Linked DNA regions of Homo sapiens: region 1 is linked to region 2. The links come from fine-mapping of genetic effects on plasma protein levels. Region 2 holds a variant in brackets. A gene starts in the other region. All regions are shown on their reverse strands.

Region 1 (4,387 bases), not on the chromosome of region 2:
AATATCATTTAAACAATAGGAAATTCAACATCTCTAATATCAGAAAGGGCAGAGGATGGCTCCAAAAATAATTTACCAAGGTTTCTCTTCTCTGCAGTTCTCTGGACTCTCCTGACTCCAATGACTCCATTTTCAGTGTGCTAGATGGCTGAAATTCCAGCAATCATATCTAGATCCCGAAATAGTTAAAGACTGAAAGGGACCATCTTTTCCCATGTCTCTTGTTTTAAGAATAGAGAAATCTGTCATAGCAGAGGTTTCCTTACAACTCAGTGGCCGGAATCGGGTATCATACTCTGACAGAGATCTCTAATTGCTTCTGAATATCTACTTTCCCCACCTTCTTCAGTAATACCGTCCTGATTTTTATCTGGGCACAGCAATGGCCAGGTATATTTCCTTGCCTCCCTTGAAAGCTACATTTGGCCATGTGACTAAATTCTGGTGAGTGAAACATACGTAGAAATGTTGTGTAGAACTTCCGGGAAGTATCCTTAAAAGAGAGGTAGCATCCTCTTTTTATTCCTCTTCTTCCATTCTGATTTCTGGAATGCAGACGTGAAGGCTGAAGCTTCTGCAGCCCTCTTTGATCATGAGGACAAGGGTACACTCAGGATCAGGTGGAGCAAAGAACTGGAAGGAGCCTGGGTCCCTGATAAATTCAGGAACCTGCCCTAAGAGCTTTATTCTGCCTACGTCCAGCTAGGTGACAGAATAAAACTTGTGTGTTTAATTTACTGTTAATCTGAGTTCTTATTAACTTCTGGAGAATCTAATCCTAACTGATACACATGCCTTCATATAGCACCCTCATGATTTTGGCCACATCTTTCTATCATTATCTTATTGTTTCTCACCTTCTTTACATTGGCTTTTTCACTTAATTTGAAGAGAATTTTTTATATCATCACTGCTTGACTATAAAATCAGTCCTGCCTGGCAAAAATAGAAGTTAACTGCAAAAATAAAAACAATGGAAATGTACTGACTTTAAAAAATTGGCCAACAGTGTTTCTGTATGACAAAGGCAACAAGCTTATTTGATATGAAATAGTTGCATTAGCTCCTTGGGGGCTCCAGTGGCCTTCCTTTTATTCACTGATAATATTAGCAGCTTCATTAGGCATTTATCTTAAATTTGCATGCACTTCCCGGGTGGGAGGACTTTCCTCTGTATATGGTGGTGAGTAATGGAGTTCTACCTGAAATCATCCATTACCTCAGTTGGAGAAACATGTCTCTAGGAGGGAAAAAAATTCAAGACTTTCTTTTACATTTGGTTGGAGTAGTTTTCAAACTTAGTAAGCCTAAGAATCACCCGAGGCTCTGGGTAAAATGCACGTTTCTGGTCTTGTCCAGGTGTAGAGATCAGGAGTCTGCATTGTAAAATAGTGCCCCAGATGACGTCAATACAAGTAGTTTTCAGACCTTAATTTCGGAAGCATGTGAAAAAGCATTCTTTATTACTGTATTCACTCATTCTTCAGTAATTGTCGAGCACCTTCCAGAGTGCTCTGTTAGACCCTGGTGGGAGGCAGAGGGTTTGCGTGGAGACTTAAGATTCAGTTTTCATGTCTCAAGGCATCAAATGAGATGTACTAGAGTTAAAAGGCAAAAAGGACGCTGTTTGTATCAAGCGCATTAACCCCTTTTAGCGTTTCTCTTACAATGGGATCACCTTCGTCATACGCTCCCAGTTGCTACTCATTACCTTAATAACACTAATAAAGCACCACCACCTCGAAGCTGGGGCGAATAGGCCCAAGAGACGGCCTACTTCTGTGGTGACCCTGAACTGCTCCAGAGGACCCAGCTCTCTCAAGCCAAGTGGTTTCCACACTTTGCTGCACAGTGGAGGCACTTGTAGAATAAAGAAAATAGGCCGACCCTCCAGGTTTGGAAGCCACTGGGCTAGCGGCCTCGCCAAGGCCCTGAAGCGCCCACGTCTTTGCGCCCTCTATCCTCAGCCCCGAAGGTGCGCGCGGAGGCCTCCCGCCCCGGCGGGCCTGGTCCTGGCGCCTGGTCCACCCCGCCCCACCGCTACCCGCCGTGCCCGGCTCCGGCTCCGGCTCAGGTGCGGGCCGCCGGCCGGGAGGAGCTGGTGCCGGAGCTTCTCAGGCCAGGGCGCTGCAGAACCGAAAGCAGCAGGGGGCGGGGGAGAGGAAAGAGGGGGCGGGAGCGGGGACGCGAGGGCGAGGCGGCCACGCGGGGCCGGGAATGCCCGCGGTGCGGGGCCCCAGAGCCGCCCGGTGGTCGTGTCCGGGCGATGGCTCTTCGCCTGGTCGCCGACTTCGACCTCGGGAAGGACGTGCTCCCGTGGTTGCGGGCGCAGCGGGCAGTGTCGGAGGCCAGCGGGGCCGGAAGCGGCGGCGCAGGTGCGGGAGGCGCGCTGCGGAGAGGGGTGGGGGCGGGGAGTGGGAGTCCCTCATACCCCCCGGACTCCGACCCGGTGGGGAGCAACCCGGGGCGTCGCCGCCCTGAGAAGGCTGGTGCGAGGGCGTCGCTCCCCTCCTCAGAGGGCTGTTTTGGCTTTGCCACCCACACCCAGCCACGGCGGAAGGTCTGGGGGCAGAGCCCGGGCCAGGTCGCCGTGGGGCCTGAGGCGCCTGGCTCGCTGCCGGCCCGCGGAAATTCGCCCTTGGCAGAGGGGCCGGGCCGCTGGCGGTTCCCTCAGCATCACCTCACGGCGAGGGCAGAGGGTCGTGCTCAGCTCAGCGGCCGCATCCCACCTCCCGGGGGGTTCATCGGCAGCGCAGGGGCTTTGCCAAGACAGGAGTGCTCCTGGAAGCTTCACGTTTTGAGAAAGAATCCGTGACCACCAAGCAAACCACCCTATACCTAACGGTGGAACAGTTTGTCCCCACATTTGCGAGACGTGTTTATGTGTCTGTTGAACCGTGTCCGTGGCTCAGGGGACATGGGCCTCGGCGGTGAGGCGCAAGAGGGCAGGGGCCGCCTCCAGGCTGCGCGCGGCGGGGCGAGAGCCCCCAGCCGCCCCCGAGCTCCGCACCTGTGCAGGCTGGGGCTGCGCGCGAGATGCTCGGCTCCCGGCCCTGCCACTCCGGGCTTTTTGATGATTTGGTAAGGGAGTGAAAGTGACTTTTGAGCCTTCCCAGCACTGATCTGTTTTAAAGAAGGGGAACTTTGTGATTTCTTACAAAGTTTTAAAAGTCTTCTATAAATATTGGAGCTTCAGAGCTTAAATGCAGCTTCAAAGCAATGATGCCTGTAGGTCTCACCTTGTGTGTAGGGCGCTGTCCACTTCAGTGAATTTGGAAGTGGGTATTAAATGACCCACATCTACAACTCCTTTCCCTTAAACGCTGGTGAAAGTTTTCTTGATGTGAGTTATATATCAAGTTGCTATCTTGTATCTTCACACTCTCCTATGACTATAGCGAAATTATTTGTAGGTTTCCTTGGCTTGGAATATTATTAGCTCCAAATAAGGAGTTATATGTTTGTGTAGCGTATGCATTGAGTTTGCATTAGTGTCATGCTTAGTAAGGCTTTACTTTTTTTCGAGGTGGAGAGGGTGGTCAAGGAAGAATTTTATACAAAAATTAGCTGGGCGTGGTGACACGCTCCTGTAATCCCAGCTACTCGGGAGGCTGAGGCAGGAGAATCGCTTGAACCTGGGAGGCAGAGGTTGCAGTGAGCCGAGATCTCGCCACTGCACTCCAGCCTGGGCAACAGAGTAAGTCTCCGTCTCAAAAAAAAAAAAAAAAAAAAAAAAAAAAAAAGTCGCCCACATGTCTGAAAAGTTTTTGAAGGCTTAACTTTTTGAAATACAACAGGCAGCTCTGTCTTCTACTACCAAGTACTCCTTTTTCTGGACTCCCACTTTATTTTGCTAAATGGCAGGTGTCTGCAAATGAGAAGTTAGATGAGTGTGAAATGCCACAGTCTTATGTTTCCGTAATGTGTGTCGTGCTTGAAAAGCTGTGTGTGACCCACTGGGACCTGGCTTCCTTGTATCTTTCGCTCATCTCTGAAGAAATATAAACTTGTGTATTGACCTTCCACTAAACAACAGATAGCTCTAGGTCCTCAGAAGGTACTTTCTGGAAATACTAGCTTTTCTGATACTGGTAGTATTTTGCTCTTTCAGAGCAAATATCTTGGTAAGATATTAGCCCTGTTATACTAAGAGAATTATCACCTCTGATAATCACCAGTGGGTGGTAGCTCAAAAATACCCCCACACAAATTAATTCCTGTTCTGTAATTTATAGCAGTGGCAGGGAAATCTGGGATTCTGTCTCATTTCTAGCACAGCAGTTACAACACACATTTGTGGAAATCATTATCCTTTCAAAGTTCTGGCTTTTCAAATGTAAATTATGAATTACTATACCATTGTAATGCCTCCTCTATGCATACTTGC
Region 2 (4,387 bases):
CCCGGCCACGTTGGTGCCATCTTTGCTCTAAATTCAAAATTTTAAACTAGTAAGATGTCCAGCTGTTGTTCACAGCTCTTTGGCTGCTCTAACTGGTTCATGTAGAGAGTTCTTCAAGCCACTGAAACAGAGTATGTGCATCCTGGTACCAGGACTGGATGAAATCTAGCCAGGCCTGGGGATGGGTCGCTGGTCTCCAGTCCAGAGCAGACCATAGCAGCAGGCAGTTTATAAATGCACCACTTATTCATAGTGGCAGATGTTGGGGAGCAGGGACCCTCCTTTTGGCAAACCTGATTTAAGAGACTAAGAATCACAGAATGGACATTTTCACTTGATTATTCTCTTTCTTTAAAAAACGTTACTTATTTGAAATGGTATTTGTCATAGTGTTCCTTGAACTAGAAGCTCCCAAGTGAACTGAGTAGATGCTTTAACCTCTGCCTTGGGCTGCAGTAATAGGAGTATGGAGCTCAGAGCAGGGAGAAAGCAGTCCTGTTGTGTGATACGCAGGACTCACCCCATCTGGAGCACCTTGTTTTAACAGGACATTGACAGCCTGGAGGGCATTGACAGGAGGACAACTAAACTCCTTCCAGGAATATTGTCTTTCCAAAACTATAATGGAGAGCGTTTATTTTACCAGCATCACATCTTGGGCTATGACCTTAATGTTCTATCTCAATTGATCCTTACCTGTAAGTCAAGAGCCATGTTATAATCAGGGAACTAAAGTTCAGGGGTTAAATTCACACAGCTAGAAAGTGATGGAGAATTCAAGCCAAGGCCTGACTGTCTCCTACTCCTTGTTCTTGAGCTATGATGCGCTCAGGCCTCTTGGTACCAATACCGCCCAGACTCACACGTCTCTGGCTCTTGGTACTTTGCGGTGAACGTGGTGATAGAGTGCCCCTGGCAGCTCCAGCGCAGTGTGCACAGAGGCTGAGACTGGAGCTGCTGGAAACCGGCCGGCTGCGTCTGCCTCCCTGCTCCACAGCTCACCAGCTGCGTGATTTCACCACGTGGTGCCTTCTTTTCCTCATCTGTAAGAGGGAATAGTAACAGCAGCTGCCTCCTAAGGCCACATCAGCACAGTGCCTGGTGCACAGAGGGCTCAGTACTTGTCGCTATTATTATTACCCCCATTTGGCACTTGAGAAAACTGAGGCTCCAGAAAGACCCATGGCTGGAGACTACTCACCCACCCTGCCACTTATAAGGCTGTATCCAATTAGAGTGAGCCCTCAACTAAAGTGAGAGGCTTGGCTTTGGCACCACTGCCCCTCCTCCCCTCCTTGAGCCAAAGCACCCTCCACTGACCCGCTGTGGTCCCCACCAGGGCCTGCCTCCCCTTCCTGGGTGTTAGTTTCCACAGCTGTCAATGCGAGCACTGACTTGGATCACCTCCCGGTTCCATCCACCTAGTAAATGAGTTTGCTTTTGCAGCGGCCCTGCGCTGGATGATGGAATCCAGGCTGGAAGGGCAGAGCCTTTGCACTGGTGGAGAAGGGGGTGTGGAGGGGGGCTTTTCATCCCCTTCAGCCATAAGCCACCTTCCCCATCTCCCCCTGGGCCAGCCTTGACCTCACTGCCAGAGGCAATCCCATCCTCCCTCCCCTCCCTCACTGACCTTCTGGGTCTCACTCAGCCTTATTCATTTTGCTCTTGCTTTTCTCCTGGAAATCTCTCTAAGGTAGGGCTCTAATTTGCAGGGCCACAAAGTATGACCTGGGAAACTGCTGGGGAAACTGCTGGGGAAACCCCAGGGGTTCTTGCTCACGAGTCTGATTCTGTGGCAGTGGTGGGGCCCAGAAACGGTCGTTTTTATGGCATTCTCAGGTCATTCTGAAAGAGGAGGCCCCCAGAACATAACTTTGAGAACCACACCCTTTAAATCTCTTGTATCTCTGGTCCTTTAGACACACACACAGATACACCCTTCACACACACACACCCTTTCCAACAATTTCCACCCAGGATGACTGTGCATGCTGAGAACTCTCATGGGGTAAATAAAAGAAGGGTTTGCTTTCATTTTGTTTTTTTGGGTTTTTTTTCTGTTTTTTAAGAAAAAAGCTTCATAATCCGAACAAATCTTGTGGATATAATCTGATGGTTATTTAACATTCCCCTTCTCATTCAGACTCCACATAATTAAACCTATTGTTAAAAGAAAAACCTTCACTAAATTAAATTTAATAGAGTTTAATTGGGCAAAGAATGATTCATAAATGAATCAGGCTCCCGAGCTGGAGTAT[G/C]CTCACAGTCTCCAGCACAGCTCCATGGTAGAAGAAGATTTATAGACAGAAAGTGAAAAGTGATGTACAGAAAATGGAATTGAGGTACAGAAACAGCTGGATTGGTTACAGCTCAGTGTTTGCCTTATTTGAACGCAGTTTAAACAGTTGGTCCCCTTTGATTGGCCAAAACTCGGCGATTGACACAGAAGTAGGTTACAGTCTGTTTACGCCTCCTTCTAGGTTATAGTTCACTAGGAACAGAGAAACCTTTAGGTTGAGCTTAAAGTATTTAAGGAGGCAGCTTTAAGCTAAATTTGATTTAACACCATTAAGAATGACAGAGCCTCCATTTAGAAGAGCCTCCATTTAGGTTTCATTATGAATCAAATGAAAAGTGATTCATAGTCAATTAGTTATACTTAAAATAACTTTTGGATTCCTCTTAGGTCCCTGATTTGGAGGGTTTATTCGTTCATTCAGTCCATGTTTCTGAGCACCTGCTATGTGCCAGGCACTGAGAGAAGCCCTTGGGTGTACGGCAGTGAACTAGGAAGGCAAGGACACTGCTCTTAGGCAGAGAACTTCAGGGAGAGTGCCAAGAAGAAAAGAAAAGAAGGCAGCATTAGAGAAAGAGAGTGGAGATTCCAGCCTAGATGGTGACCAGGAAGGACATCTTCCTCAAGGAGGTGACATTTGAGCTGGTATTCAGGTACCAAGAGGTCACCAGCAGCAGCCATGTGGACATCTAAGCAGTCTCCAGTCAGAGGGAAGAAGAGAAGGACCCACCCAGGCAGGCGTGAGCAGAGGGCAGGTCAGTGTGGACAGAGCAGACAGGCAGAGAGCACCAGATGGGGGTGGGAGGGGCAGGACTGCATTTTATCCAAGTGCAGCGAGAAGCCAGTGAGGTGTGTGATCAGGAAGTTCACTGCTAGGATTTGTGACTTTACAAAGGTCAGCCCACCTGCTGGCTGGTGAGGACTCGGAGGAAACAGGAGGGGGTCGCATGTGGAGCACTAGGCCGCCGCTGCAGCGGTTCCCAAAATGGCGGCTTGGAGAGACGCGCACAGATTCTGGAGGCAGCGGATGGGATGTCAAGGATGACCAGGAGAGAGACTAAGGATGCCTCCTGGGTATGAGTGAGTTTACTACATTAAGAAGAACGAAGCTGGAAGTTTCTCTAGCTTAGAATAAAGAATGTCTCCATCTTAGGGATAGGAGGGACCCCAGCCGTCTCCTGGCCCCGGCCCCCGCCAGCATCGGAAATCTCCTCCACAGAGTGTCCAGAGCTGCGGCGAGCCTGCCCGCCTGGAGCATCTCCAGTGTGGAGCAACTCCAGCGGTAATTGTTGGAAAAGCCTGTTTTTGGTTTCCTCGTGCTTTTCTAAAACGTCTACTCTCCGATCTCATTTCTCTCCTCTGGGGCCATACCTTGTCTGCAACCTAGCATTCATTTATTCAGAGTCGACGGAATGCTTATTAACTACACTGTGTCTACACGCGGAGGGTACAGCGGTGAACAAAACAGACAATGCCCCTGACTTCACAGGGCTTACATTCTACTTGGGGAGACAATGAAAACACTAAATATGTGATTAGCCATGTGCTGACAAGTGCTTTGGAGAAAAATATTGCAGGGTGAGGGGGCAGGGAGTGCGGGGGAGGCCTGGCTGATAAGGTGGCATTCCAGCCAAGACCTCGAGTCGTGAGGTTGCAGGCCACGGATCTGGAGAAGGAAGCCTCTCGACAGCAGAAACTGGAGGCGGCACAGGCCCCTTTTGTTTTATCTGTGCCTGCTTTGAAGAAGTGGATGTGCTCTTGGAAAATTCTGTGTGCTAATCAAATATTTGTAAATCAAATCATATTTTAAATGCATCAAAGAAACTTCCATTTAAAGTGACCCTGGAGTAAATGAGTCTGCAAAGTAAATAAAATGTTCTGATGTGAATAATTTATCTACCTTGTAAGTATAGATTTTCACATAACCATTGCTTGATTGTGTCTTTCTAAATTTAATTATTTATTTCTGAAGTGGGGCAGTTACAGACCGGTGCTGAGAGCTGGGGCTTTGCAGTTACAGAGCTGTGGTTTTGAAACCCAGACCTACCTCCTAAAGTGACCTGGGACAAATTATTTAACTCCTATGAGCCT

Which allele goes with the higher level. Positions count from the first base shown, and alleles are read on the strand shown. Strength reflects both the effect of a copy and how common the allele is.
For the plasma level of the protein whose gene starts at base 2,239 in region 1, allele C in region 2 goes with a lower level than allele G (weak association).

What was found. A credible set is the group of variants that fine-mapping cannot tell apart. PIP is the chance, under the fine-mapping model, that this variant and not a neighbour inherited with it causes the effect. The UK Biobank Pharma Proteomics Project read protein levels with antibody pairs (Olink). The fine-mapping took linkage between variants from a reference panel, not from the people measured, so its PIPs are less certain.
Region 1: GSAP starts here. The variant in region 2 is the best candidate, but not a certain one, in a credible set for the plasma level of the GSAP protein (UK Biobank, PIP 0.63).

Annotation. Positions count from the first base shown.
Region 1 is chr7:77,414,201-77,418,587 of GRCh38, reverse strand. It overlaps GSAP (gamma-secretase activating protein), which reads left to right and starts at 2,239. Exons shown (of 31, transcript NM_017439.4): 1 at 2,239-2,375. The coding sequence starts at 2,267. It overlaps LOC101927243 (a long non-coding RNA gene), which reads right to left and starts at 3,390. Exons shown (of 5, transcript NR_110073.1): 1 at 3,240-3,390. RefSeq lists silencers at 1,944-2,293, 2,514-2,723, 2,784-3,073.
Region 2 is chr10:98,402,231-98,406,617 of GRCh38, reverse strand. The region is part of intron 4 of PYROXD2 (pyridine nucleotide-disulphide oxidoreductase domain 2); the gene reads left to right. Among named protein-coding and RNA genes, the nearest start is that of MIR1287, 9.1 kb to the right of the region's middle. RefSeq lists an enhancer at 1,648-1,697. The variant G/C (reference allele first, on the strand shown) is at 2,259.